Homo sapiens: one gene and its partners. The protein of the gene in region 1 purifies or fractionates together with the protein of each later gene. This does not show direct contact. Each region holds a gene or a part of one and is shown in the gene's direction. Other genes may lie near its edges. The genes, in order: BICD2, VPS41, DDX3X and DYNC1I1.

Region 1 (7,802 bases):
AGCATCATGGGCTGCTTGACTAAGGATACTTATAGTCATTTCTTGATGATATGCTAAAGAAGGGTGGATTATTCATGAGTTTTCTGGGGAAGTGGTAGGCACTTTGCAGAACTGAGGGTTCATCCCCTTGTTAGACCATATAGGGTAACTTCCTGACATTGGCATGGCATTTGTAAACTGTCACGGCGCTGGTGTGAGTGTCTTAGCATGCTAATGCATTATAACTAGCACATTATGAGCAGTGAGAATGACTAGAGGTCACTTTTATTGCCATCTTGGTTTTGGTGGGTTTTGTCTGCCTTCTTTTTTTTTTTTGAGGCAGAGTCTCGTTCTGTCACCCAGGCTGGAGTGTGGTGGCGTGATCTTGGCTCACTGCAAACTCTGCCTCTCGGGTTCAAGCAATTCTCCTGCCTCAGCCTCCCGAGTAGCTGGGATTACAGGCACCCGCCACCACTCCCGGCTAATTTTTGTATTTTTTTAGTAGAGACGGGGTTTCACCATGGTGGCCAGGTTGGTCTCGCATTCCTGACCTCAGGTCATCTGCCCGCCTCAGCCTCCCAAAGTGCTCGGATTAAAGGCGTGAGCCACCGTGCCCAGCCTTGTCTGGCTTCTTTACTGCAACCTGTTTTATCAGCACGGTCTTTGTGACCTTTATCTTGTGCCAACCTCCTATCTCATCCTGTGAGTTAGAATGCCTAACTTCCTGGGAATGCTGCCCAGTAGGTCTCAGCCTTATTTTACTCAGCCCCTATTTGAGATGGAGTTGCTCTGGTTCAAATGTCTCTGACATTATGTCTCCCAAAAATGTATAAAAGCAAGCTGTACCTTGACCACCTTGGGCACATGTCATTAGGATCTCCTAAGGCTGTGTCATGGATGCATCCTTAACCTTGGCAAAATAAACTTTCTGAGTTGATTAAGATTTGTCTCAGATACTTTTTGGTTTACAAGAGCTACACAAGAGGAGAGGGGAAGGAAGAGGTTGAGGAAGGGCCACACTTGAGCGTGCAGGGCCTTGGAGGTAGCTGTGATGATGGGGCTTTGACTTTGGTTGGGTTTTGAGCAGAGTGGGAATGGGACCTGACTTGGGTCTAAGGAAACTCTTGGCTGCCCTGCTGTGAGAGAAGCCTAGGGGAAGGAGGAGGCAAGGAGGCAGTGAGAGGGTGACGGTAATGGTCCAGGTGATAGGGACTGGGGCAGAGAAATTCCAGGTAGAAAAGGGCGGGTCCCTGGTGAAGCCTCACCGTCAAGCTGAAAGGCCTGAAACCGCAGCCCAAAATAAGAACTTATATCCCTGTTTCCCACTCAAATGTCGCTGTTTCCTAAACTACCCATGGCCCCGCCCTGCCCCATCCTTTGCCTATAAGGACCCCAGGCTCAGCCAGCAGACAGGAGAAGCAGCTGGATGTCGGGGACTATGGCTGGATGTTGGAGAGAAGCGGCTTGACTTCAGAGTGACAGCTTGATGGTGTAACTTTGGAGAAGAGTCTGGCCAGAGACAGAGAGACTTGAGGAGAAGAAGGTGGCATCATTTCTACCCCTCAGGGTATTGTGAAGATTGAATGAGAAGATGTATGTCACGTACCTGGCAATGTTGGGAACACATGCAGAGCTCAGTAAGAGGTGGCTCATTATCTGCTGCCAGGATCACCCTGCTTCTCTTATCTTTGCAAGCCCCCTATTCCTGCAGCCTTGGGCTGGCCAGTTCCTGTGCATCCTCTGGGTCTCCCTCAGGTGTCTTCTCAGGGAAGCCTTTCCCGATCCACCCCACCCCATCACACATTGCCACTCGCACCCAGAGCTGTCCCTCCTGCCAGAAGGAAGACCACAAGGGTAGTGACAGACCCTCTGCCCCCAGCACCTAGGAGAGTCCCTACCTGTAACAGAATGTTCCTGAAACCTTCCCTGGCCTCCCTTCCACCACCACCTGTTTCCAAGTTCAAAGCGCCATGGTCAGTCCCTGCGTGGGACTCCCATGGTCTTTCTCCCTCCCTCCTCAGACCTGCCCCACAGCAAGGTATGGCGGGGGGTGGGGAGGTTCGAGTCAGATCAGCCTGGATCAGGTGCAGGTGTTGCCCTGAGGCTGTGTGACCTTGGGCAAGTCACTGTGGGGCATCAGTCCCTCCCTTGCTAAGTACACACTCAAACAAGTCTTGTTCCTTCTTTACACTGGGAGCTCTCCCACTTACAGTTAACAATTTGCCCAGCCCAAGACAGTCCCAGGTAAGCCAGGAAGGTTGGTCTTCCTATTCCTACTACAACTGAACTCCTTAAAATTAGTTAATTTCACAAGCCAATCTATGACACATTCTCCTCAGACAAACAAAACACTAAAAAGAATCAGGGCTCCTTGGGGAAATGACTGATTTCAGGTCTGGGACATGGAGAGCACAAGATGATCTTGGAACAATTTGCATCAGACATCAAGGAAGTAATAACAATAATAACAAATTACGATGTTTTGAAGACATGGAGCCAGCTTGGAGGAGCTCCCACGGGCCAAATCTGCTACCATTTGAGCATCAAAGCAAGTAAGGAAAGTAATGGATTGTAACCCACGGAGTAAAATAAGAATCCATGGATCCATACTGCTAATGAATGAGAGAGAAGGGAATAGATGAGAAGGTATAGGTGCCTCACAGTACAAAGGCAACTCATAAATGGAGAAGGACTAATGGAAATAGAAAAGCAGCCAGTATGGCTGGTCGCGGTCGCTCACGCCTGTAATCTTAACACTTTGGGAGGCCGAGGCAGGCAGATCACGAGGTCAAGAGATCGAGACCATCCTGGCCAACATGGTGAAACCCACTCTCTACTAAAAAAAAAAAAAAAAAAAAAAAAATTAGCTGGGCATGGTGGCATGCGCCTGTAGTCCCAGCTACTCGGGAGGCTGAGGCAGAATCACTTGAACCCGGGAAGCAGAGGTTGCAGTGAGCCGAAATTGCATCTCTGCCCTCCAGCCTGGGGACAGAGCGAGACTCTGTCTCAAAAAAAAAAAAAAAAAAAAAAAAAAAAAAGCAGACAGTATGGTAATAATTATTTCAGGCAAGAAGTAGTCATGAATGCCAAAACCAGTGGGTCAAGGTTTGAGGAGTCATAGGCTATATCTATGGTTGCAAAGTCTTCACTCATGACACTAATTACCAAAGAAAAACCCAGCATCAATCAGAGAAATGCAAATCGACATCACATACCTCCCGGCTGGTGCTCTGAAAACTCAGCAACACCTCAGTGACAGTCCTGCCAGAAACGCATCACCTCATCACCCCATGAGCATATACCAGTGTGCACTGCACTCCTCAGAAAGGTCAATCAAAGGAGACTCAGGAAACCTGACGACTGAATGCAACTGGATCCTGGACCACAAAAACAATACTGAAACTCTCCAGTATGGTGTTGGGCCCTCGTGCAATTAGAGTGTGGACTGTGCATTAGATAGTGTCAGTACCCTGTGTGCTGTGATTTCTGCTGTCATGGCTTCTTTCTAATTTGGTCTTGAGGGAGAGTGACCATAAGCCAAGATAGCCACTCTCTAGGAGAACCGAATGGGTGTGGGGTTCAGGTGAGATACAATGAGAAAGTAAAATTAAAAGGTACAAAACAGAAGGAATTTATTATTCTTAGGTTCCGGAGAGGTTAGGGATGCCTAAGAGAGGCGGACAAGCAGATGGAGAGGGGCAGTGAGAGACGGTGGGAAGGAAGGGACTATGGCTGTGCTAGGGTCCATGGAAATCATCCTTTAGGATTTCCCTTGGGGCCTGTGGACTGGCTAAAGAAAATACGAGGGAAGGGTGAACTCATCTGCACTGATACTGGCCATTAGGTGCTATGGCGGTCAGCGGCTGTGGGGTGTGTTGCGCTTTAGGTCAATGAGATAAAGAATAAACGAGTTATCTCACACACCACCATATACGGAGAAGTGTTACCTACGCCAAGGCGAAGGGTACGACTGGCTTTCAAACAACTTAAGTCAGGCCTAAAAATAGATGCGGAGACAACAATTATATTTACCACGTTTATGACCCTGTATTAATGGAAATGTCTTTATTCCCAAGAAATAGACCTTGAAGGACTGAGGGGCGGTGCTGAGGTTCCCGCTGGCCCCTGGGCGCCCCCTGCTGGCCCGTCCTCCTCCCGCCCCCAGACGTCTGCACAGAGCATGCGTCACACCGTCCACGGGTTTCCAGCAGCAGCCGTTCACCCGCGCTCTCGGATGCGCTTCTAGCTCGTGGCCTCCCGGGCTCTGTCCGCGTTGTTCGTCCCACGGTCGGGAGCCCAGTCCTGCCGCCCCGCACCCGCCTCCCCCTGGGGGTTCTCCCGGCAGCCGTCTTGCCACCCCGCGTGGCCGCCGGCTGCCAGAGGCACAGGGGAGCGCGAGGCCCGGCGACCGAGCAGTGTCCCCGGCTCTGAGTGTGGGGAAGGCCGCGGGGCCGCGCCCACTCGACCGCCGTCCAGGGGACTGCAAGGCGCCGGTACATCCGGCTCGACGCTGGCGGCGCAGGCCAATCACGGACGGGGACGGGTGGGCGCGGGGCTGGACGGGTTTTGTAGTCGGTGCGCTAGCGGGACTACTGTCCCCACAGCCCCCTGGGCCACATTGGCGTCAGTGGCTGCGCCCGAGGGCCCGCCCCTCACAGAGCATGGGCCAATCATAGCCGGGGGCCGGGCGGGCGCCGGGCATGATGGACCTTGTGGTCGGAGCGCAGGCAGGACTCCAGCCCCCAGCGGGCCCCGCGCGCCGGAGGGGAGGAGCCGTGCGGCGGCGCGGGCGGGCGGGCGGCCGTCGGGGCAGGGCGGCGGCGGCGGCGGCAGCGGCGGCGGCTGAGGAGGGCCCGGCCTGCGAGAGCCTCAGTGGGAGCCGGCTCAGCCCTCGGCCACCATGTCGGCGCCGTCGGAGGAGGAGGAGTACGCGCGGCTGGTGATGGAGGCGCAGCCGGAGTGGCTGCGCGCCGAGGTGAAGCGGCTGTCCCACGAGCTGGCCGAGACCACGCGTGAGAAGATCCAGGCGGCCGAGTACGGGCTGGCGGTGCTCGAGGAGAAGCACCAGCTCAAGCTGCAGTTCGAGGAGCTCGAGGTGGACTATGAGGCTATCCGCAGCGAGATGGAGCAGCTCAAGGAGGTGAGCCGAGCCGCCCTGCCCTGCGACCCCCGCCCGGCGCCGGGGCCTGTGGGCGTCGTCCCTGGCACCAGGGCGGCCAAGGTCAGCTTGCCAAGCGGGGGCCGGCAGGGGTGGGCCGCCGGGGCGGAGGGGGCACGGGCAGTATGTGGGAGTGGGCCCGGCCTTGGCTAGCAGGCCGGTGCCGCGGCCGTTGCAGACGCCGCTAATGCAGGGGTCCGGGCGCCTTGTCGCCTCCTGCAGCTGCCCGCCTGCTTCTGTGCGGACCTGGGCGGCCCCGGCGGGGCGGGGCTTCGTAAGGGCTGATGCTTTGCGGTGGTCGCTGTTCCGGGTGTGTCTGAGTGTGGGGTGGGGTTGGGAGGGCAGTGGCTGAGCCGGGAGCTGAGGCCACGGATGCTGGTGACCCGCTGGGAGAGGCCGAGGGTGGGCCTGGGTCTGGGTGGCTGCGGCTCTGTCACCTTCAGAGAAAGCACTTCCCCTCTCTGGGCGCAGCTACTTTCGGAGCGTTTCTGCTTCTTTCATGAGTGCCTCCGAGGTGGGGAAAGGTCGTGGACAGCGGCCTAAGTGAGTAGGGGCTCGGGGTTGCACGTGGAGGTTGCCCCTGGCATGGGTCCCCCAGTACCCTTGCCCCAGGCCCAGCGCTGTGTCCTCATGGCCGGGATTGCGCTCCCACCAGCTAGCATGACTTCCCTGGCCCACTTCCTGTCCAGCCCCGCTTCTCGGGCCCTTCCCCTCGCTGTGGCTTGCTGTGTTCCTCTTGGACGGAGACCTCAGTGGTCTGTGTCATTCCCACTGGGGGGAGAGTAGGTTAGACCACCAGGCTGGTCGAGGGTCTCCAGGCGGCAGGGCAGCGGGAGTCTTGGACAGTCCTTCCCCAGCTTCTCTTCTCCCGTTCCCTGACTCCATAGCGTTGTTTGCAGGAATTGCTTTCTGGGAGGATACACCAGGGTTTGGATCCAGGCTGTGCCCCTTGCTAGTGATGTGGCTTTGGGTAGAGGCCCTCCGTGAGTCTTAGTTTCCCCCTCTGCAAAATGGGAGTGCAGTACTGCGTGCCCAGAAAGGATTGTTGTGAGGGTCATGTATTTGGAAAGGACTGGTGTGCGGTCAGGAGTATAGCTTGGTGGTGTGCTCCCTTCCCCCACTTGAGTGTGTCCTGGTGAGCCCTTGGCTCTTGGTTTCCAGGCTTATCACCTGGCACCTCTGCTCCCAGTCAGCCCAGACAGGTGCCTAAATCATTTGCAGCCTTCCTTGCCTCCCCCGTGTCTGAGGAGACCCGTCTGTGGAGAGCAGAGAATGAATCCAAGCAGATGCTTGGATGTCTGGGCAGAGCAGGTGCTCAGTTAGTACCAGTCAATGGCTGACCCTGGGCCAGCAGGAGCTGGGTCCTCCCCCATCGCCCTCAGGACTCGATTCTGTTGTCTGTCAGCAGGTATTGGCACCTTCTGCAATGCATGCTCCAGTGGCGCTGGAGCTACAAGAGGGGTGAGATGCAGCTGCTCTTGCAAGAGTCCCCATCTTAGGGTGGGGCGTGTGATAGGGAGGCAGGGGGCTCTGAGAATATGGAGTGGGAGTGGACTCGGCCAGTTTCTGGTCTCCTGTAGCGGGGCTCACCCTCTCCAGCAGGCAGCACTATCTGTTAGGGCGCTTTTCCCTCTGCACACAGTGAAGCAGCCCTCTTCCTCCTACCAAGTGCATCGTGAGCCGCTCCTGGGCAGCCTCTACAGTCCCTGTCTCTGTCCACAGCTTGGGTTTGGCAGTGTCCTCTGTGAGAAGGAATTGTCGCTGACTTAACTTGTCCCCGCTTTGGTGCCCTTCATTTGTCAGGTCTTTGCTATTCTGACACAAACGTTTTGGCACAGTGAAGAATCTTGGCATTTTCGTGGCATGTATCTGGAGGGTGAGTCCCTAGCAGAATCAGGAAGAGGGTATACCTGTTTCTGTGGGTACTCTTTAGGCGTCTGCTTGCTTGTTTTTTGTCACCACCTGGCTTCCATGTACTGGCCACATGGCCTTGGACAAATTACTGCTCTGTTCTGAATCTAGTTCTCCTTTGTAAGGTGGGATAAGAATGTTTCTGCTCGGTCTCTAGCAGAGTCTAGAGGAATGTGCATCAGCGTTTCAGTTTCAGTAGATGTTGCCAGAAAGTTTGTACCAGTTCACCCCCCATCAACAGCATGCGTGTTCCTCACACCCATGCCAACACAGGCTCTTGCTAACCTATTTAATTATGGCCAGTATTATAGTTGAAAATATTAACTCTTCATTTAAAAAAAACCACAAGATTTAAGGAGTCAATAATTGTGGGGTTTTTTTTCTCCTGTAGAGCGGTGTACCGCCTTAATTCTTTAGAAAACTTTATTTCTTGAACTAAAGTGCATTTAGTTACTAATAAATTGTGCTCCAAATGGAGTTGCTTGTACTTCTGCCCTGCATTTGTAGATAATAGGATCGTTGAGGGAAGGACGCTGGCCTGCTGGTCCCAGTGTGTGGGTTTCTGATCAGAGCTGAGGAGGGTCTTGTGGTGATGAATGGGAGACAGTGCCAGTCCTGTTGCCTTTCTCATGGGATGGGGGAAGTGTCTGTGTCCTGCTGACAACATAGCACGGTGCTGGCTGAGACCACAAGTGAGGTGGGTGCCCCCTGGTTGATTTTGCCTAATCATTCTGCTAGTGATTTCTTGAGCCTG
Region 2 (7,018 bases), on another chromosome or scaffold:
TAGAAATCACACCCTAAATAACTAGAGGAAATGCAATTGAATACCATAGTTTTGGAGAAGGAGGAGAGCTTTTTAATATAATCTAGGTGTCAGTGTTCCTGGTCTTCTGGCTCCTACCTCCACATGAGTCACAATTTTTGTACCATGCATACCAAGAAACAAAACTTGTCATCTTTTCACATTCTTCCAAAATGAGCCACGTGCATGACAACAATGTGGGTTGTACTGAGGATTGCATAATGTAGCATATAACATAACATTCATATTTGGTGTTTCTCCATTGTCACTTCCCTGCTGACCTCAGTAGGGTTTTTCCGCTTTACGCCTTTCCCTTATACAGCACTCACTCTCATTGGCCTCTTTGCCTCTGTTGAAAAATAATCCAAATCCTCTATTCCCTTTTATGTGTATGCAGATTCATGGGTGCTCAGCCACAAACCCAGAACTGTCCAGTTATAGCACCTGCCCTTCTTAGGAGAAGTGCTTTTGGGGCTGCATTTTGTTACTTCAGCATGTTCCTGGGGTTCTAATCACAATTTTAGGTAGCTCATCAATTCACTAATTCCAAACAGTGTTCTCCCCAAGAAATATTTTGGTGGAATAAATTTTTGTCATATTGTCTTAGAAGCAGTAGAGGACTTATTAGGGACATATAGTCTGATTTTATAAAAACTTGATAATCCTGTAAACATTTTTAAATAACTAACCATTTTTAGAGACATAAACTGTGGAAATAATATTTGTAAGAAACACAAAATGCTGTGGAAGGGGTATCAAATGGGATATCATTTCATTCACAAGCCAGCTTTTATCAGTTGATAATGGCCGTGTGCAGGGGGAAGGATTCAAGATCCTTTACTAGTTCCTGCAAGCCCAGAGACAGGGGTAAGGGTGACAACCTACAACCAGGCAGTTGTTGTCCCTCCACTGAGTAAGGCTTTCTTACATGCACTATATTAAAAACTCATGGAAAACTTTAAACTATTAAAATGCCATAGGTCAGTGAGCAAAGTATGTAAAGACAATTAGCCAATAGAAGGCATGGTTGATAAATACTTTCATCTCATGAGGGTTATTGAAAGGCCTTCCCCTGAACGTGGGAGAGAAGAAAATGAGGAAGCCCTCTGATAGTTGAGTTTGCAGTTGGCACAAAGTGTATCAGAAAAGCAGTATGCACAGCTACCTCATGAGGCAGAATGACTTTAGGGCCTTTAAACATTTTAAGTGTATCTGCATGTGAAGGTATTGACCTCCAGAATATATATAAGTCTATCAAAAGTAAGTCAGAGTATGACAGACCTGGCTTCAAATTCACAGTGTACTATTTAGTAGCTGTATGATCTTAGCAAGCTACTAACATTTCTATTTCCTCTTCTATAAAAGAGGAATATTAGTAGAACATGCCTCATAGGGTTGTAGTGATGGTTATATGATGTCATTTATATGAGGCACTTAAATGAGTACTCAGTACAGAGTAAATATCCAGTAAATAGGAGATACTTATTTTGCTATGTTATAGACAGTAAATGTTGGTGTCACATGAGAAAATAGCCTTGTCTTAGCTTTCCACCTATGTAAACAAATTAAGAGATATGCAATTTCTTTAAAAAAATTATTAAAATACCTTAAATGAACTCTTTCTCCCATCTTCACCCCACCAAGGCCGAATGGGTAATAGCCGAAGTGCCCTGAAGATGATTATGGAGGAATTACATGATGTTGATAAAGCAATCGAATTTGCCAAGGAGCAAGATGATGGAGAGCTGTGGGAAGATTTGATTTTATATTCCATTGACAAACCACGTAAGCATAAAAGCCATCTCTGGTTATAACTTTTTTTTCTCTCAGTGTAACCAGTTATGTCTAGATTAAAAACTATTTCAAGATACATTGGGTTAAGAAAATGGTAGCGTACCTACAATAAAAATAGGCCAGGTGTGTTGTAATGATTTCCAATACTCCTCCTGTGCTGGAAAACCTGGAGCCTCATCACTTTGCATTACCTGCATGTGATGAAGAACAGGTGGCTACACAGTTTATTAATTGTGTCCCCATGAGGCATATTTTTACCTGCTGCAAGCAAATTGAATAAATGTCATCTGGGTTGTGTTGGTGTGGTTTTTTTTTGTTTTTAGCTTGTATATGGGAGTGTTTATAGTTTAAGTGTATAGACCTTACCAGTCTTTTTTGGAAACATGTAACTGTTCTGGACATTGATGATATTTGGATGTTTGTGTTGTAGTATTTAGCCTCTTTCCTGCACTATTTTTATCAGTACAACACCCAGAGTTTGTATTTGTTGGTCCTCAGCTTGACTGTTTGCATTGGGTCTCCCATTTTGGAAAGGAAAAAACAAAAGCAGTCACCTAACAGAAACCCAACTCTTTTGAAAATAACTAGCAGTAGTGATTTGAAATTTCCTCTTTCCTTTTTTTTTTTTTTAAGTTTGGTAGGAAGTCTTTGTGTTCATGTAACTACCTTAATCTGAAATTGACTTTAATAACTATCCTCTTGACAATATAAAGAATCTCACTTGTAACTAGCAAGATAAAGTAGTAGTTTAAGGATCTCAAGAGGCAAAGTGATGTGGCAGAACATATCATAAACTTGAGGCTGGCCTGAGTGAATTTGGGCACATTACTTATTAGCCGTGTGACCCTGGAAAAATTAAACACCCCATTTCCCTTGTCTGTAAAATGGGGACACAGCATTCCTACCTTGCACAGTATTTGAGGAAAGTGTATATGATACCTGAGCCATAGTCAGTTGTCAATAAATATTATTTACACCCATTTGATGCTAAAAACTGTATTTTGAAGGCAAGTAATCATTTGTTCAACTGTTTTAAAACAGTTCTTATTTACTTTCTCCTTCATGTCTTAAGGAGCGTTAGTTCTTGGAAGTTTAGAAGATTAATTCTTAAGAGTTTAGAAATTCAAATGGTTTTAACACTTACTTTGAAGGAAATAATTTTTTCTTTGAGTTACTTTTGATCTAAAATTGCATTATATGCAAATTATGTGCAAATAAAATTGCATTATAATGTTGCTTATATGTTCATTGTTTTATGTGGTATTTTGTAGCATTTATTACTGGCTTGTTAAACAACATTGGCACACATGTTGACCCAATTCTACTGATTCACCGTATTAAGGAAGGAATGGAGATCCCCAATTTGAGAGATTCCTTGGTTAAAATTCTGCAAGACTACAATTTGCAAGTAAGTATCCTTTCTTGGACAAATGAGCATCTGAATTAGTTGACTTAGTACTGGATAAATATTTCTAGGGTTTATGTTAGGTATCAGTTAAAAACTTTCGATTTTATGGTTACATTTTATTTAGGCCCAGATATTTAGAAAACTGTTCAAATAGAGTAATTAGAAACATCACCTTTAAAATTGCGTTGTCCAGTAATACCTTAAAGGCCTTAAGAAGGCTATTTGATTCTTTAGCCATCTCCAATTTTCACTTGTTTTTGAGCAGACATTCTTACATTTGTATGGTTAATATAACATGGAATCGAGGCGAGTATGAAAGCAGTTATAGTGGCCATTAGATCGGGCCACCCCAACATTTTTAGGGAGAATAAGTATTGTATCCGTTTGAGGGAATTAACAAAAATGTTTTTCAGTAAGGTAATAATTTTTCTTGAAGCCATTCAGTAGTCTGTTGCCTGAAAGCTGTTAAAATATAGGATTTTATTTAACCTTTTGTCTGTTTTCTAGAATAGTGCAACTTTATTATCCTTGTTAAATCAGAATTTGTCATAAGAACAGTGGAACTCATTATTTTCATATAAATTATTATACTAATTACAAAGCATCTTAATCTTTTCCTTAAAAAGACTCTAGCAATTACTATTTTTCAGGATGCTGGTAACTTCTATAGAACTTGAATTAAAACATTTCCTTAAAAATTCGGACTGTTGTTCTTCCTCTAATTTACTTGAAAATGAGGTTTTATTAATAATGGATGAAATTACTTTCCTAGAAACAATTTTTGCAGGTAAAGCCAAAAGAAAAGGCTATTAGCTGAGGAGCATTATGATGTGAGATCCATTGGGCCAGGATTCACCATGCAGGTTGCAAAGTAGAGGTCTGCCTGCACTCAGGGTGACAGCCTTAGGTAAGAGGCAGGGTGGAAAGGAGAAGATATTGCAGGAACATTGGTGGCATCAAAAACAGATGTAAGAGATGAAAGGGATGGCAGAGCTGCAGGGACAAGAGGTTGTGCCAGAGAGTGTGATGTCATTAATGTTTCTGAAGCGGAGTCATGGTGTATACGTGTTCAAAAAGTGGGATGATGGTAAAGGTCATTTGTGTAGAATTAGTAGAGAAACTGAGGCCACAGCCTTTCTGAGTCATCCTAATGGACATGAAGGCCAGGAGGAAGAAACAAGGTGCTCTAAGCCAGGCTCCAGCTTCTCCACAGGGGACAGTAGTATTAACTGGACAACACGACTTTAAAAGTGAAGAAGTCTAAAGATGGGGGTGGGGGTGTGAGAGATCATGCAGCCTTCACTCCGGAGAGCTTTGTGGGAAATTGGGTTCATGGGAGAGAAATTGGTATTCGTTAAGCCAAAGAAGTAGATTACCTGTTCCGCAAAAAGCTTAACGATATATAGGCATATATTTCCAGTGGGATTTGGAGGTTTGCAGATGACCCAGGAGAAAGGTTATTGGAAGGAGAATGAGAAAGTCAAGAAGGAAATAAAAATATGGGAATGGGTTAATAGGCAAAGAGAGGTGAGGTGAGGAGCTGGCTTTTCATGCCACGCCCTAGGAATCCAGAAAGGTGACGTCCCTGCCTGGGGAAGTCACTAATTTTGAAGGTCAGATTGGGCTTTGGTGAAAGTGTTTTCAGTATCAGAACTTATAAGCCTCTGAGTGTGAGTGAGCTTGATAATGACCTTTACTTCATTGACCCTTACCAACCCCAGGCATGCCAGGATATGCTCTAGGTTTCAAATCCACATTTGATGAGAAGTCATTTAGGTGTCTCTGAACAACCCTCCCCCAAGGGAAGTAGTAAATAATTATCCCTCTGCCTTTCAGCTGTAGTGCAAGAAGCTTGCACTAGGTTAAAAGTTGTGCCTTTCTTTTTCGCCAGCCTCCGCAATGACTGCAAGACCACATAGTGCATCCCTATGACTAGGTCATTCTTCCAGAGAACCAAGCTCATGGGCACCACTGTGATCTCAGTGTTCATTCATTTTTAATAAATAAATTTGCATCATTCTGAGTCAGCTGGTAATAAAAATGAAATTATTATTAGATGCAAAATGAATGCCTAACATAAAAATATCTACTAAAGAAGCTACTAAATATTTTTTCTTAATTAGAGCTTTTCCTTAAGATATGTAAGTATGTAGTTCGGTAATGTGTTAAGGAGGTTCAGAATTATTTAGCTAGTGGGTCCAAAAAGCTGTGGTTGCCTGTGAATCCCCCAACCAAGGGGTGGCTTCTCAGAGGGTGAGGGAGAGATGAACAGGGAAGGCAGCAGAGCCTGTGGAAGCTGCTGCATCTGGAGTCCCCACTGGAGCTCAGGCATCTTGTTGGAGAATGCAGTCAGAAAATGCTCTCCGGGGGCAGGTGGTTCAAAGAATTCCAGGCATTATTTTTCCCTCACAGATAAAGAGTTTAAAATATTTTTCTGCTCTTTTTACATAATGTATTAATGACCGCTTAATGTGTTTCCTTTCTCTAGGCAACCTATTAGGGTTCACTGTAAAAATAAATCTATCCAGAGAGCATTTTGCAATTTCCAGAAGGATTTCACTTGCATGTTTTTATTTTATTCTTTTTTTATTTTGTATTTTATAAAACTATGTTGTTTTTCACATACTCTCACCTAGCAAAGTAAAAAATTAGCAACCCTATTCAATCTGAAAATTTGGGAGAAATTTTGCATGTTCATCAATTTCCAGGAATCTGGAAGTGACTGTGTGTGTGATGGGGCTGGGTGGGACAGTAACCCCAGGGGCTATCAAGAACCATTCAGTAATGTAGGGATCTATGGTCAGATGTTGGGGAAATGTTCTCACAGGGCTTCTCAGCACCTTTTCTTGCTGGTATGCATTGGGAATCTCTAAAGGGAGATTGACAATAGAGTATACAGCATTTAAAACTTGGGCACTGCTTTGGGAGATCATTCATTAGCCAGTTGTTAATTGGAAAAGCGGGTTAGAGAATGTTGTGGGAAAAACTTGAAATGAGTAACTCTTCTGCTTTTAGTTTCACGTTTTCTAAAATGTAACAGCTCTCTTCAACCGAAGGTTAGCATCATTAGGTTTGTTAGATGCCTATGACATGACATAGTTTAAGGAAGTAGTATAATCAACTACATCAGCAGTGTTTAATTTCTTTAACTTTCTATGTTTTTATACCCGGCTACCTTGTTAGTGTAATCACTGCACAAATTTTAAAAGCTTCATGAAGTCAGTAAGATGCAAGTGGCATGTATTGCACTTCATAAGCTTTAAATGTTCCTAGGCCTGATTTCAAGGACAAATAGCACTTATTTTGATATAACTTCCAAAACAATATGGTATCAATTATACTTCAGTTTTTATGTAAACTGACCAGTTTCCAGTTTATGCTACAAATTTCTAATGTTTTTACATTTTCTATTTTTAAAACATTATAAATTTAGCATGTAGTTGTTGAGCGTTTATGTCCATTTTTGTAGTTGGAGGCTTTTTTCCCTTGAGAATTTCAGCATCTTTGTTCTTAAAGACTTCTTTTGACGGTTTTATTTGACAAACATTTAATCTTCACAACACTTCTGTAGGAAATATCATCTTTGTTTTACAGATGAGAAGGTTGTCTCTCAGAAAAGTTAAGTGATTTGCCAGTCTGGGAAGGTGATGAACTGGGTTTGAACACAGATCACAGATCCTCTGACTAAATCTCATGCCTTTTTTAAATCAGTGACTACATTACCTTTTACAGCCACAAGTAATCTCTAAAAAATCTGCTAATTAGAGTGGGGTCTTAGTTTTTTTCATTATGGGTAAC
Region 3 (7,976 bases), on another chromosome or scaffold:
AGCCCACAGCCCTATCTGTGAGGTAAGGCTAGGCTTTAAGTTCTGCATCACCTGAGAGAGTGATTGCTTAAAATGCCCCTACTACCTAAGAGGCAGCTCGGCCTCCTGAGGGCATATGACCCAACCCCCTTCACTATACTTCCAAGACTTCAGTCTTCGGTCACTTTGCATGAACAAAGGCAGAAATGCACTGAGCTTTGCTGTTTGAAAATATTTTTAGCAATTTTAGTGGTAGAAAAGATGCCCTTTGATACAATTTTGTTTTTGATCTTGTCTTCTTTGAGGAAGGAAAGCAGATTCCAGGCCGGATCTGCTGTTTGAGAGTATAATAATTGCCTAAGGCCAGGCGTGGTAGCTCACGCCTGTAATCCCAGCACTTTGGGAGGCCGAGGCGGGCAGATCACCTGAGATCGGGAGTTCGAGACCAGCCTGACCAACACGGAGAAACCCCGTCTCTACTAGAAATAGAAAATTAGCTGGGCGTGGTGGCGCATGCCTGTAATCCCAGCTACTCGGGAGGCTGGGGCAGGAGAATCGCTTGAACCCAGGAGGCGGAGATTGCGGTGAGCCGAGATCGTGCCATGGCACTCCAGCCCCTGGGTGATAGAGCGAGACTCCGTCTCAAAAACAAAAAACAAAAAACAGAGAGAGTAAGTACGGAACTGCATTTACCTCCACACCTATAATTATCCTTCTTATTATAGGGAAGTTCTATGTCTTTGAACTTTATTCCAAATCCACCCTAAAGAAAAGTATGGATCAGCTGGACCCAGGAGGCCCTTCCCCTGGACCTTGCAGAAAAATGACTGACAATCATGAAATTCACTAAAGGCTTTAAGGTACCTATCTCTTGGAATCCCTTTTACAACTCCTTTTCTTCTAGCTTCGGAATAGTCTAATTATCTTTGTCCCAGGTTTTAGGTTACTTGGGCACATTATTTATGTGCATCGCAATAATGTGATTTCAGTCTATCTCTGTCTCCATTCTGCATAGAGAGGTGTGACAAATTTCCTGTCCTCTGTGGGCTCACACACAGCTGCAGTACCACACGGAATTACAGTGGAAGTTTGAACAGTGGAGACTGTGGGAGCCCAGTGCCCAGAGCAACCTACTCTACTAAGGGAGTTGAGAGGATGGGGAGCTAGACACGTGTTATGTGGATCCAGAGCCACTTGGTACTAAGCTCTTACTCCCTGCAAAACACTTAAAAAAAAAAAAAAAGATCTTAAACACTACCTCTCCTCCCCCCCACCCCCGCCTTCTTTTTGAGACGAGTTTCACTCTGTCGCCCAGGCTGGAGTGCAGTGGCGCAATCTCAGCTCACTGCAAACTCCACCTCCTGGACTCAAGCGATTCTCCCACCTCAGCCTCTGGAGTAGCTGGGATTACAGGCGCGCGCCACCAAGCCGTAACTCCTGGAATCAAGTGATCCCGCGTGCCTAGGCCTCCCAAAGTGCTGGGATTACAGGCATTATCCACCACGCCCTGCCTCGCAGAGCACTTTCAATTCATGCACAAGCCCTTGAATCCCAAACACTCTTGGAGGCAGAGACTACTTTTATTCCAACTTTATAGATAAGGAAGCCAGGGCACTGTCAAGGGAGTTGCCTGGTGCCTGTAAGCAGGGAGCTGAACTGGTAGTTAGAGGAATTGCAATTCCCAGGCTCTGGTTCACTGCGCTACCTCCAGGAATGGGGGTGGAAGTGGAGGGAGGGGGCGGTGTTGCAGGAAGTACATTTGCTTCAATATGAACAGTTAAAATGCCTGGAAACATTAAGAAAGGGAGCGTGCAAAAAAAAATTTCCCTGGTTTCAGCCATTTCTTTCTTTTTTTTTTTTGGGGGGGGGCGGAGTCTTGCTCTGTCGCCCAGGCTAATTTTTGTATTTTTTTTAGAGACGGGGTGTCACGGTGTTAGCCAGGATGGTCTCAGTCTCCTGACCTCGTGATCCGCCCGCCTCGGCCTCCCAAAGTGCTGGGATTGCAGGCGTGAGCCACCGCGGCCGGCCTGGTTTCAGCCATTTCTAACCCTTTTTTAGGTCACTTCAAATAAAATTTGCAAATAACTGCCATGTGGAGAAAATATGCAAATGTTGCTAAACGGAAAAGTCATTCGGAGTGCTGTGAAAGTTGGCTCATTTATTTAGCTGCCTCAAGTGTGCACATCATTCTTTTTCAAAGTGAATGTGTTTAAAGACAAAGCTTTGTATGTTTTCCCGCTTCCTCTCCAATTGGATATTCCAATTATAACGTATTGATTAACAAAATACCCTGGTGGTTTGAACCAAGTATGCCTATGAGCAGGGGTTAATTGAAAATAGGGAACTGCTGTATATTTCAATTCTTTTAGGTACTCCCATGGCGGTACCCTGTACTCGGCTCTACTCAAAAGTAAAACAAAGCCCAGAACCAGGGTAGTCAGTGCATCCCATTGTTGCTATATGCAGTTTGAAGAGCTGTCGGAACTCACAGTTTTCGAACCTGACTCATGTTTACCCTGGTTCATAGGAAAACGAAACTGAAACAAAACCGAGGTCCTTCACCAAAACTCCATGAGAATCCACGAATCTCAGGGCAGGAAGGGACCCTAATATCATTAAACCTAGTGGCTCTCCAAGGGGCATTGTAGAAATCTGTGTATTTCTGGTTGTCACAATGACTGGCGAGAGCTACTGGCATTTAGTGGGCAGGAGCCAGGCACGCTAGGATGTTCTATGATGCTGGTCAGTCCCACAGAGCGAATAATTGAATCACTGGACACATGTCGGTGAAAAACTAGTTCATTATCATCTAAGCCTAGAACTAACACTGTTTTACATATGAACACAAAGTATCTTTGCCCAGTTTCCATATATCCTGAATTTTCCACAAATGCAGGTACTGTTTCAATTGAAGGAAGATTGTACTGTTTTATTTAAAAATTATTAATAGTTCATCATTTTGGAAAATGAGGTTCCTAGTAGCAATGCTGCTCATGGAACTTGAGTTGTGAAATCAACACACCTTTCCAGTTTGCATTTGTGGCTCTACTGGGCAAGTGTCTTCCCACCAGTTAGTGTAGCTGTGCGGCGGCATTTACATATTATAATACATTGTTTTATTATAATCATTTTGCTTTCGTTTGTTGACAGATCATGTTTTTTGAAATTGTGTTTGTAGGTTTACATAAACAATTTAGGTTTTGTTATTTCAGTATAGGTAAAGGGGGCGTTAGAAAATACTCGTTATGAAAAGGAGTTGGGTCTTTCACAGGGTTATGGAATGTAGCAGACTCCTTTTATAGATGAGCAAATTGAGACCCAAAGCCGTTAAACAACTTGCCCCCGACAGTGTGATATTCTCTCCCTATCTCGTTCGAATTTCCGTCTCGATTTTAAAAATTGAGAAGGGAGAGAAGTTATGTGTATAGTAAATTATGTGATGAGCACGAACTATTTGAATTCTGGCAGCAGAAGACCTTTTGTGGGGGTGGTGGAAACCACTGCGTTTTATTTAATTTCGTAGGGCTGAGGGTCAGAAGAGAGGGGAAAGCGGTCATAAGAAACTACGGATGTGCGGGCGCCGGCTCAAAGCCGGGAATCCACTAGTAAACACCTTCTTCTATTTAAGGGCCTGCGGCACCGAAGCCGGGACTTGGGGTGGCCTGCCTAGGAGGGAACCACAGGAAGAGGTTCCACCGACGGTAGAAACCCGGTTCCTCCTGTTCCTCATCCACCGCAGCGGCCTGAGAGTCACCCCGAGCCCAGGCCGGTAACCCCGCTGCAGCCCCTCCGGCAGGCCCAGGTTGCACCGGCTACAAACATTCCCGACACCCTTGGGCCCTAGAAGAGCCGTTCGCCACCCGCGGGGTCCCCGCAACGCCGGTGGTCACCGGCCCTAAGCCGCTGGGCGCCCCGCGGGAGGAAACTAGGGGCAAATGTAGCCCGCATTCCTGCGGAGAGCCGGGGTCCCGGGAGGGCGCGCCAGCGGCGGTTCCGGATCAGCGCGTGTCTGTCTCATTGTTCCCTCACCGCGGGGGGCGGGGGCGGAGGCGCGCGCGCACACGTCGGGGGGTTGGCCAGGAGGGGCCATTGTGTGTTTCTAGGCGGCGCCCCCGCTGCCTAGGCAACCGCGCAGGAAGGTGTCCGGCCACCTGCGCGCGCCGCCGGCTCCCCTCCATTTCCCCCCGACTCCCGCCCCGGTCACCATCCTACCCTCCTCCCTCCTCCTTTCCCCTTACTCCGCTCCCCTCTTTTCCCTCCCTCTCCTCCCCTTCCCTCTGTTCTCTCCTCCTCTTCCCCTCCCCTCCCCCGTCCGGAGCACTCTATATTCAAGCCACCGTTTCCTGCTTCACAAAATGGCCACCGCACGCGACACCTACGGTCACGTGGCCTGCCGCCCTCTCAGTTTCGGGAATCTGCCTAGCTCCCACTAAGGGGAGGCTACCCGCGGAAGAGCGAGGGCAGATTAGACCGGAGAAATCCCACCACATCTCCAAGCCCGGGAACTGAGAGAGGAAGAAGAGTGAAGGCCAGTGTTAGGAAAAAAAAAACAAAAACAAAAAAAACGAAAAACGAAAGCTGAGTGCATAGAGTTGGAAAGGGGAGCGAATGCGTAAGGTTGGAAAGGGGGGCGAAGAGGCCTAGGTTAACATTTTCAGGCGTCTTAGCCGGTGGAAAGCGGGAGACGCAAGTTCTCGCGAGATCTCGAGAACTCCGAGGCTGAGACTAGGGTTTTAGCGGAGAGCACGGGAAGTGTAGCTCGAGAGAACTGGGACAGCATTTCGCACCCTAAGCTCCAAGGCAGGACTGCTAGGGGCGACAGGACTAAGTAGGAAATCCCTTGAGCTTAGACCTGAGGGAGCGCGCAGTAGCCGGGCAGAAGTCGCCGCGACAGGGAATTGCGGTGTGAGAGGGAGGGCACACGTTGTACGTGCTGACGTAGCCGGCTTTCCAGCGGGTATATTAGATCCGTGGCCGCGCGGTGCGCTCCAGAGCCGCAGTTCTCCCGTGAGAGGGCCTTCGCGGTGGAACAAACACTCGCTTAGCAGCGGAAGACTCCGAGTTCTCGGTACTCTTCAGGGATGAGTCATGTGGCAGTGGAAAATGCGCTCGGGCTGGACCAGCAGGTGAGCCGCAAGAACCCCACCGGGCTGGCTGCTGCGTGAATTCCTCCCCTGACCTAACCTGGCTAATGGCGCAGCGCTAACCGGCACCCTTACTTTTCATTTTCTGGGTGCCCCGGGCTGGCGGGTGTGAGTGCCCCGGGGCTATAGAGGGATAGGAATGTTGGTTGGGGCTGTCGCCCGGGCCCGGTCTCGGCCCGCTGTATTGTCCCCGGGACGAGCACAATGGCGGCTTTTGTGTGTGCGTGCGCAGGCGGGCGGAGGGGGAGGAAGTGCGCGCGCTCTCGCGGGGACGCGCATGCGCGAATCCCGACTGATTAGTGACCTGGGGGGGTTTGCGGGAGTGCGCAGCGCGGCGGGACGCGACTGGAGGCCCTTTTGGCTTGGAGGGCTTCGGCCTTCACGGCTGGCGCAGCCTGGATTCCCGTCCGGAGGACCTGGCGGCACCCGGTGTTTGCGTGCCTGCGAGCAAGGGGTAGAACGCGGCCCAGGAATGTGGGAGGGGGCGGCCTTCGCTCGGGGTAATGGCGGCGGCCTCTTTTGTGTGGTGCTGGGCGGCGCTGTGGCTCACCTCCGGGAGACGGCGGGTCTCGGGCGGGCGAAGGCCTGGAAAGGAGGATGGAATGGGTTTCTTGTTTTTTCCCGGGTTCCTTCCGCTGGCTTTTTCGCTTCAGCCCAGGTTCCGCAGGGTCCGGGGGCCCTGCGCCGCAGCCGGGGAGGCTGCGTTTCCGGAGTGGAAAGTTTTGTGACGCAGAAGATTGGGGAGGAGTGGGGGAGGGGTGGGGGCGGGGAGGGGAGGCAGGAATTGGCCGCTGCGCGCTGGGCCCTGGAGATAGAGGTTGGACGTGGCGGGGAGGTTAGGGAGCCAGCGAGGCCCTTTCTCCTCCTTGCTTGCCCCAGATTGTCCCTGTGTGGTATGTTAGCCGGGAGTCCCGCGTTGTTTTTCTGGGGTGGAGGGGTCATCGCGGGTTGTGGTAGTGTCTTCGTGTTAGTGACTGTGATCCAGGAATCCGCCATTGGAAAAACACCCGGCTTAGGGGGGAAGTAAACAGTTTTGTTGTTGACTTGTTGCTATCTGTGGAGTAGAATCTTGCAATGGGTCCCAGGCCCCCGGGTTTTTTCTCTTAGCCAGAATCCCCTCTTCTAAGGGTTTAGGGGCAGAGGAGAGAAAGATGTGTGATTTGAGAGGAGAAGGTTATGGACTTTGGTGGCAGGAAGTCTGCATCCCACCGCAACAGTGGCACCAGGCTTCAGATAAGCTCTTGTGTGGGTTATGCGGAGCTTTTAAATAAACTACTGTCTACTGTGATTAGGGGAGCGTTGATTTCACAAACTCCGGAATAATCCTGAGACGAAGTTTAGTGGCACAAATTAATTGAATACATAGTTTAATGTAGTCATATGTAATATTTTTTAGGAATTGATCTGTTCCTTTGGAAGCATTTTCTACCCGTTAATGAACCAATTATATTAAATCCTCTAATTGCTGACACATGTTGAATTGAACAGACACTTTAACAACCTACCAGCAGCACAGAGTATTCCCAGTTTTACCATTTTCCATTTAGCTATAGTGTCCTTTTAAGGATTCTAGGCAACAGTGAACCTTATTTAAAAAGCAAAATTGTGCTATAACAAGTGCAAAAGGAAAGTTTGTGTTCCTACCGTGCTTTAAAGTATTGATGGTAGCAAGAGAAAGCGCAGTGGTGTTTTTGCTCATAGAAATTCTGGAAATTAGGTGCCTGAAGTCTTACACTCATTTTTTAAAAGTATAGCATCTGCTTCCAGTTTTCAGTGACTCCATTGATGATGCATGCGGTTTGGCCGTATCATACTGAGCTTTAAACACAAGATTTATAAACATGGTATGTAGTGCATCTTTTGCAAACAGGTTGGCAGCGGTACTGTGTGACTTGGTCTTTTGTGGCTTTTTTGAGAAAAATGAAACACTTTGCATGTATAGTTTTTTCTCCCAACTACTTGTGAGTAGTTCCTGGTTATAAAACGTTATGAAGGTAGCACATAACCCTTTTCTAGAATGAAGAGGCTTTTGAGCTACCAGTGTAAGGGGATAGGTAGAAATAGAGATGAAAGGCACTAAGATGTCCTACTCTTTAAGAGCATTGAACGCCAGTTGTGCCATTTATTCAAAGTCATCTTTGAACTTATGTTAAAATGGGGTAAAAACAGGTAACTACTTCAGGCCGGGCTCATGCTTGTAATCCCAGTGCTTTGGGAGGCCAAGGCAGGTGGTTCACCTGACCTGAGGTCAGGAGACCAGCCTGGGCAACATGGCGAAACCCCATCTCTACTAAAAGTACAAAAAGTAGCCTAGCGTGGTGGCGCACCCCTGTAATCCCAGCTACTCGGGGAGGTGGAGGTTGCAGTGAGCCGAGATCACATGACTGAATTCCAGCCTGGATGACAGAGGGAGACTCTGTCTCAAAAAAAATAAAAATAAAAACAAACGAAACAGTCAAACTACTTAAGAGTTGTGCTTAACATAGTGTTCTGTAAGTGGTAGGTATATTGCTATTTTTTTGTTGTTCTTAAGAGTACTACCCGACTAAAAATACTTGGGCAATATTTAGGGATGAAGTATCTAACTAAAAGAACGGCCACTTCGAAATTTGTCCTGACATTTTTCAGGTGTGCATTTTAGGTTTAAAATATCAAGTATTACGGAAAGTTGGCATTGGAAACTTTCATAACCGGCACTAAAACGAATCCTTTATCTATTTGACATTGAGGAATAATTTTGAGATTCAGTGTAAGCTTTAGTTTGGTGATTAGGGAGCCTGTGCTATGGAACATGTTAGTGAAAATTTATTTTGAATGCATGAATTAAATTTGGACAGTTTCTACTGAACAGCA
Region 4 (7,661 bases), on another chromosome or scaffold:
ATGTCAAAATATCAACATTAACAGGAGTTTGGAAGAAGTTAATTCCAACCCTGTTATGGTTTGTTTATTTGTCCCCTCTAAATCTCATGTTAAATTGTAATCTCCAATGTTGGAGGTAGGGCCGGGTGGGAGGTGTTTGGATCATGAGGGCAGATCTTTTATGAATGGCTTGGTGCCCTCCCCATGGTAATGAGTGAGTTCTCACTCTGAATTCACAGGAGATCTGGTTGTTTAAAAGACTGTGGCACTTTCCTTCTCTCTCTTGCTCCCACTCTATTCATGTGATGCATCAGCTCCCCCTTTGCTTTCTGCCATAATTGTAAGGTTGTTGAGGCCCTCACCAGAAGCAGATGCCAGTACCATGCTTCTTGTACAGCCTGCAGAACCATGAGCCACAGTAAACTTCTTTTCTTTATAAATTACCCAGCCTCTGGGGTTCCTTTATATCAATGCAAATGGACTAATACAAACCCTCATGGATGACTTTGAGGGGCTCAAAACTTAAGTGAAGGAAATCACTGAAGATGTAATAAAAATAGCAGGAGAACTAGAATTAGAAGTAGAGTCTGAAGATGTGACTGAATTGCTGCAATCTCATAATAAAACTTCAATGAATGAGAAGTTGCTTCTTATGGAAGAGCAAAGAAAGTGATATACTGAGATGGGAACTACTGCTGGTGAAAATGCTATGAACATTGTTGAAATGATGACAAAGGATTTCGAATATTACATAAACGTATTTGATAAAGCAGTGGCAGGGTTTGACATAGTTCACTTCAGTTTTGAAGGTTCTGTGGATAAAGGGCTACCAAACACACACTGCATGCCTGTATCAAAATGTCTCCTGTACCTCATAAATACTAAATACCTTCTATGTGCCCATAAATTTGTTTAAATGCTATCAAAGAGCATGACATGCTACAGAGAAATCTTTCATGAAAAGAAGAATCAATGGATGAGGCAAACATCATTGTTGTCTTATTTTAAGACATTACCACAGCTACCCCACCTTCAGCAACAACCACCCTGATCAGTCAACAGCCATCAACATTGAGGCAAGACTCTCCACCAGCAAAAAGATTACAACTCACTGATGGCTCAAATGATTATTAGCATTTGTTAGCAATAAAGTATTTTTAAATTAAGACATGTATATGTTTTAGACATAATGCTATTGCACACTTAATAGGCCACAGTATAGTGTAAACATAACTATTATATACACTAGGAAACAAAAAAATGTGTATGACTCACTTTTATTGTGATATTTGGTGATGTGAAACTGAGCTCACAATATCTCCGTAGTATGCCTGCATTTTCTTTTTCTACAATTTTGACTACTTTAGATACTTCATATGAGTGGAATCATACACTATTTTACTTTTTGTAACTGACTTATTTCACTTACGACAGTGTCCTTCAAGTTCATCCACACTGTAGCATGTGACAGGATTTTCTTCCTTTTTAAATATAAAATTTTACTGTATGCATATATATTCCAAATTTTCTTTACTTATTCATCTGTTCATGAACATTTGGGTTGCTTCCACCTCTTGGCTATTGTGAATAATGTTGCATTGAACATGAATGTGCAAATATCTCTCTGAAATCCTACTTTGAATTATTTTGGTTAAATACTGAGAAGTGATAATATTATAACTAACTTTGAAATTGAGGGCTTAATTTGCTGTGGGCATACATTACAGGCTATTTGTCATGAATACAACTTGGCAAACTCAGGCCTTTTAAATCCTGACCTGGATTCTTTGAATGAACTTTAAACTTGTCTCTTAAGCTTTTGCTTGTTCAATCCTCTACCCGAAGATAGCCCCAGATGACTCTTCCCAAGTGTCATTCTCTACTCAAAGGCCTTTAATGATTCTCCATTATCTGCTCTACAGCCCTTCTCAAGGCCCCAGTTGGCTCTCCCATGAGTCTGTCATGATCCAAAAAGCTGGCCCACTCACTATTTGCTGAGTACACTTTGTTCTTTCTCTTCTTTGGAGCTTTGTTTACGCCTGAAAATGTTCTCTGCTCTTCATTTCTGCTCTAAAACCCTACCTATTTCAATACTATCTATTGTCATAATTCTAATTTCCTCCTTCCATCTCATCCACCCAAACCATTGTACTGCTTTGGGTATTTCCTTATTGTTTGTCCTTAATTATGTTGCCTTTACCTATCCTTGCACCTCCAACTGGATTTTAACCCCTTCAAGAAGAGGGATTATATTCTCTTTTTTAAATCATGTGAAGCTCCAAGCACAATGCTTTGCAGGTTGTGTGCGATGCAGTACAGGGGAGCCCCCAAATTAATTGGAGCTTAGCTCGCAAAGGTTCTTGGCTTTGCCCAGGAAAGAATTTAAGGGTGAGCCAGTGGTAGGGTTGAAAAGTACAGCTTTGTTGAAGTGGCAGTGTTACAGCTCTGATGGTGTTACAGCTCTGTGACTGTTCCTGCAGAGCAAGGCTACCCCACAGGCAGAAAGTAACAGCTCAGGGTAGTTTTGCAGTCATATTTGTACCTACTTTAATTACTTGTAGATCAAGGGGTAGTTTATGCAGAATTTTTAGGGAAAGGGTAGTAACTTCTGGGTCATGGGGTCATTGCCATGGAAGGGAGTGGTAACTCCTGGGTTTTGCCACGGCAGTGGTAAATTGACATGGCACACTGGTGAGCATCTCTTATGGAAAGCTGCCTCCGCCCCATCCCTGTTTTAGCTAGTCTTCAATTTGGTCCAGTGTCTAAGTCCCAGCTCCTACTTCGTGGGCACTCAACAATGCCATGTTGAGGCCAGGCATGGTGGCTCACACCTGTAATCCCAGCACTTTGGGAGGCTGAGGCAGGCAGATCACTTGAGGTCAGGAGTTCGAGACCAGCCTGGCCAACATGGAGAAATGCCATCTCTACTAAAAATACAAAAATTAGCCGGGCTAGGTGGTGTGCACCTGTAATCTTAGCTACTCAGGAAGCTGAGGAAGGAGAATCGCTTGAACCCAGGAGATGGAGGTTTCAGTGAGCCGAGATTGTGCCACTGCATTCCAGCCTGGGCATCAGAGGGAGACTCTGTCTCAAAAAACAAACAAACAAACAAACAAAACAACAACAACAACAAAAGCAATGCCATGTTGGAAAGACCAAAATACAAAGTAGTTAAAGTACAAGCTGCAGATGAATGGGAATTCAAATCTCAGCTAGATCACTCAGTGGTTATGGAACTTGGGCAAGGGAGTTAACTTCTTTGACTCAAGTTCCTTTTCTGGAGGCATGGCATTCGTTATATGTACTACATAATGTTATAGAAAAGTTAAAGAAAAATGTATGTAGAATTGACATGTATTAAATATTCAGTCACGGTAGTGGCAAATATTTATTTCCTAGATTTTTCCTTCTGGAATACCTTGAATACCTTCTACCTAGACATTTAACCTCTTCATTTCTAGCCATAGTTACAATCGCAGTAGATTAGCCAGGGAGGCCAAAGTTTTAGAATAAGGATGGCCATTTACAGATGAGTATGTATTCATACTGTATTCATACTAGAATCTGTATTTATTTTGAAATTACTGTAGTACTTGTGAATTAATAAGTTCATAAATATTTACTGAGTACCCATTATATATCAGAATGCTGTTCTAGATACTAAGAATACAGCAGTGAACAAGATAGCGTCCCTGCCCTCCACTAATTTACATTCTAATGTGTAAAAATACACCACAGATGTGCAAGAAATATGATGAAAAGCTCATCTATAAAATGATACCAAACCCCCTAACATCCCAAACTCAATTTTTTGGCCTTATAACTTAGCTGTTGTGGCAAGCTTGTTTTTTGCAGAGTCCAATAATAGTTACCCAGATTTTTTTTTGTTTCCCCGAGACGGAGTTTCGCTCTTGTTGCCCAGGCTTTGAGTGCAGTGGCGGGATCTCGGTTCACCACAACCTCCGCCTCCCGGGTTCAACCATTCTCCTGCCTTAGCCTCCCGAGTAGCTGGGATTACTGGCATGCACCACCACGCCCGGCTAATTTTGTATTTTTAGTAGAGACGGGGTTTTTTCATGTTGGTCAGGCTGGTCCCCCAACTCTCGACCTCAGGTGATCCGCCCTCCTCGGCCTCCCAAAGTGCTTGGATTACAGGCGTGAGCCACCGCGTCTGGCCAGTTACCCAGATTTTTAAAAGCTGGGACTTTAAGAAGCAATGTGAAGACAAGCTACACACACACCACACCACACACACACACACACACACACACACACACACAGACACACACACTTAATTCTTTTTTCTTCTAGAAAAATTGGGATCAATCAGACCTATAAGTCATTGTGTACAACAGGTAGATCTGAGCTTTATTTCTATTTAAATGACCTTAAGAAGTGTAGTTGCCTGGGAGTGAAAGTTGTTCAATGGTGGCATTTCAGCAGGAGCTCCCAGAATATTGAAGCTCTTCTCTTTGCAGCAACTGAGGTCTAAGTCCTACCGACGTTAGAGGGATAGACGAATTGACCTTTCCAGGTCCTCTGCTCGCCACCAGCCTACGGAGCGGCGCCACCCCCTCCTGGCGAGACCGGGCGCGGAAGACGCGGAGCGGAGGCCCTCCCTCAGGAGGGGCGCGGGCGTGGAGGGCGTGGGCAGGGGGCGGGGCGAGCCCCGCAGACTGAGTGCTCCGGGGAGCTGTCAGTGTCAGGCTCTGGGAGAGAGGAAGTGATCGCTCCCGGAGGAGCGCGAGCCGAGCGGCCGGCGCAGCGTGAGACAGCACATCCTGCCCGCGCCGGCCCCGCCACCTTCGGGAGCCGCCTGCACCAACGCTGCCGCCGCCCAGGAGCCGCCGCCGGCTCGGGGAGCCCAGTTCCGCCGCTGCCGAGCGCGTCCAGGTAAACTGGAGCGGGATGTCGCCGCTCCCCGGACGGCCGCCTCCGCACCTCTCCCCAACCCTCCCCACCCCGGTGTCGTCTGCGCTGGGAACCAGGCTGGAGCCGAGGCCCCTGCAGCCGCAGCCGGACCCTTGTCCTGGCCCCCTGCCCAGGCTCCTGCGTGCTCCGCTGAGCCCGAAGGCGGCCAAAGCCCCCCAGTGACACCCCCCTCTCGGCAGAGCCGAGAGACTAGGGCAGAGAAGGAAGGGTCGTGGTGTCACCACCTGGTCGCCCACCTTGTGGGCTGGGAAGGGCGTCCCAGTGCGCCCCGCCTCGGTCTTCCCCGGGGGAGCAGTGGGCGAGCGGCGCTGAAATCTGCACCCCTCTGGGCCACCGGCTGACTGCCCCTGGAGGAGGGGGAAAGCTGCAGAGGGAGGGGAAAGGATGCTGTTTGATTACATTTCGAGCTGTCTGCAAAGCTCTTAGATGCTGTCACTACCCTGCAAGTCGGAGGGAGCGAATTCACTTCCAGCAGGGCATTAATTAAACACTTCAAAGCGAGAAGATGCCAGTTTCTCTCTGCTGCGAAAAAGTGTGGCTGGGGGATGTTGTTTTGGTAAACACCTTCACGGCCGCCTGGCTCTCCTTCCCCCGCTCCCATTCGGAATCGCTCTGGCCTTATAAATCCGTGCGTCGTCATCATAAGGGCAGTGATCCTGGCAGCGCTGATGGGAACTGAGTGTGCGGGAGTCTCATGACTTGTACCTTGGCTAATAAGATTAAACAGAAGCCCAGGATCAGGACAGGAAATTACATAGGAGATCAGAGACTCAACAACATGCAGAAGATGGAATATATTCGCTATTCTGGCCTCTACTAATCCTAGGTAAGGGGCAGGAACAAGTAGCCAGCCATTTTCTTGCTTGGAATGCCTTTCAAGTGGGCATTGTAGACTTATTGTAGTTCAGAGTTGTGAAGAATTGCTTCCAAATATTCCAGATTAGCAAAAAGTATAGCTAACAGTAAGGCATAGGCAACTGCAGGTGACAACCCAACGCCTGATGTTAACACAGACATGGGTAACCAGTCTGTGTACATACTTTAATTGTGGAAATTATAGAGATATACGTTGATCAGTGTTAGTAAATTTGAAAAGGGAATATTCAGTGCAATTTGCAAGCTGAGGGTACTGGTGAGAATGTAATACTACCTCTAATTATTTAAAATGCCAAGTTTGTTCAAAAAGGTTTGGTGTGGAAAAAGGGGTCCTAACTCAGCTCTTTTGATCATATTTCTCAATAAAATAAAATCTGAAACACCTGCCACTGAGTTACCACATGTTCTCTTCATAAGAACTAACTCTCGAATATTTGTTTAGGTCTGAGGATCCAGTGCTCCAAGACCCATTCCTCTTAAAACCTCTAGCACCATCCTTGGGAAGTTTTTAGAATACAGTTGGGGGTCGAATGCAGGCTTTTCCAGCCTGTCAAGCTCTTAGCCCTGTTTCTGGCCCACAGCATCTCAGCATTTTACTTTGTCTTCCTTGTCTCAGGCCTCAGATACAAATGCACTTGCTTCCTCCTTCTTTGGACCTCTGAGATGCTGCAGCCGCTGGTGCACAGTCCCCTGGAGGAGGAGGGGCTGGCTTGCAGTCCTTCCCCACCCCCAGCCTTTCCTCCCTCTTTGCTATTGAAAACATGCATGATTGTTTTACTGTTAAAGCTTTAGGTAAATCACCAGTAGGGATATGAGCAGAGAAAATAAACTCGACCCGCAGGAAAAGGGGCAGAGTTCTTAAAGTAGTGGTCCATGGTCTTCAGTTTCTGACTAACTTCGAAGAGAGTAAGAAGTCACTTGGCATTTCAGTCACCATGTTTTATATCTCAGAGAAGGCTCTAGGGTCTTTCTTCCCAATCCCTCTGCTTCCAAAAATACTCCTTCCCGAGTCTACGTTTAATAAATGAGCCTTGCCTTTGATGACAGTGCTGAGTCAAGGATCCAGCCTGGGTGCTGCTCTGTCCATAAAAACAGCGATGTAGACCAGTCTTGTAAAATGCATGCCAAATCTGAAATCTAGGTACCCCTCTTAGTACAGACAGTGTGCACCGGCTTCATCCTGTTACCGTTTTCTCCAGTTTCTTTGTTGTTTAACGTAGCATCAAATGAAAAGGTCACATGCATCTGTTTCAAAATCTGTTTCAAACAAATATATTCCTTCATTACTTTATTCTCCCTACACTTGAAACAAAGATTGATAACAGTAGCTAAAATATATTGAGCACTTTACCAGGCATTGCATTTTAAAATACTTTCACAGGTGTTAACTTATTTAAACATCACAAAAATCTTATGAGGCAGATATTGTTTGTAATCCTGTTTTACAGATGAGGAAACTAAGACACAAAGGTGTCAAGTAACTTTTGCTCAGCTACTAAGTTGAGCAAGGCAGCATTTGAATCAAGGCCTGACTCCAGGCCAGGAGTTTTAACCTCTCTCTTCCGTACTATGAAACAATTACACTGGTTAATTTTCATATATTGAATACCAAGCTCTTCTCTTATCTCATTTTAATTCTTATATTAATCCTATGAAGTAGACATTATTATCCATATTTTCCAAATAATTAAATGAGTTAAATGACATACTCAACATCATTTAATAAATGGCAGAGGTAGGATTCAAATGAGATCTCTCCAAAGACTCTAAAACTAGGACCCATCCATTTTGGCTATTGTGCTGTGTGAGAGACAAAAAAGCGAGTGTATGTCTGTATCTTTCAGGTTTGCTCTCCAATTTCAGTGTGATCCATT

What was found.
Region 2: the proteins of BICD2 (region 1) and VPS41 purify together in Homo sapiens (affinity purification with western blotting; 2 studies listed by BioGRID and IntAct, with this or other methods). This does not show direct contact.
Region 3: the proteins of BICD2 (region 1) and DDX3X purify together in Homo sapiens (affinity purification with mass spectrometry; 2 studies listed by BioGRID, with this or other methods). This does not show direct contact.
Region 4: the proteins of BICD2 (region 1) and DYNC1I1 purify together in Homo sapiens (affinity purification with western blotting; 4 studies listed by BioGRID and IntAct, with this or other methods). This does not show direct contact.

Annotation. Positions count from the first base shown.
Region 1 is NC_000009.12:92,761,822-92,769,623, reverse strand, and holds the start of BICD2 (protein bicaudal D homolog 2), read left to right. Parts: upstream 1-4,790; 5' UTR 4,791-4,879; coding exon 4,880-5,119; coding exon of another isoform or gene 5,120-5,200; intron 5,201-7,802. UniProt on the Homo sapiens protein: Acts as an adapter protein linking the dynein motor complex to various cargos and converts dynein from a non-processive to a highly processive motor in the presence of dynactin.
Region 2 is NC_000007.14:38,738,187-38,745,204, reverse strand, and holds part of VPS41 (vacuolar protein sorting-associated protein 41 homolog), read left to right. Parts: intron 1-1,662; coding exon 1,663-1,803; intron 1,804-3,083; coding exon 3,084-3,220; intron 3,221-7,018. UniProt on the Homo sapiens protein: Plays a role in vesicle-mediated protein trafficking to lysosomal compartments including the endocytic membrane transport and autophagic pathways. Acts as a component of the HOPS endosomal tethering complex.
Region 3 is NC_000023.11:41,329,193-41,337,168, forward strand, and holds the start of DDX3X (ATP-dependent RNA helicase DDX3X), read left to right. Parts: upstream 1-4,969; 5' UTR 4,970-5,060; coding exon 5,061-5,105; intron 5,106-7,976. UniProt on the Homo sapiens protein: Multifunctional ATP-dependent RNA helicase. The ATPase activity can be stimulated by various ribo-and deoxynucleic acids indicative for a relaxed substrate specificity.
Region 4 is NC_000007.14:95,767,902-95,775,562, forward strand, and holds the start of DYNC1I1 (cytoplasmic dynein 1 intermediate chain 1), read left to right. Parts: upstream 1-4,652; 5' UTR 4,653-4,872; intron 4,873-7,661. UniProt on the Homo sapiens protein: Acts as one of several non-catalytic accessory components of the cytoplasmic dynein 1 complex that are thought to be involved in linking dynein to cargos and to adapter proteins that regulate dynein function.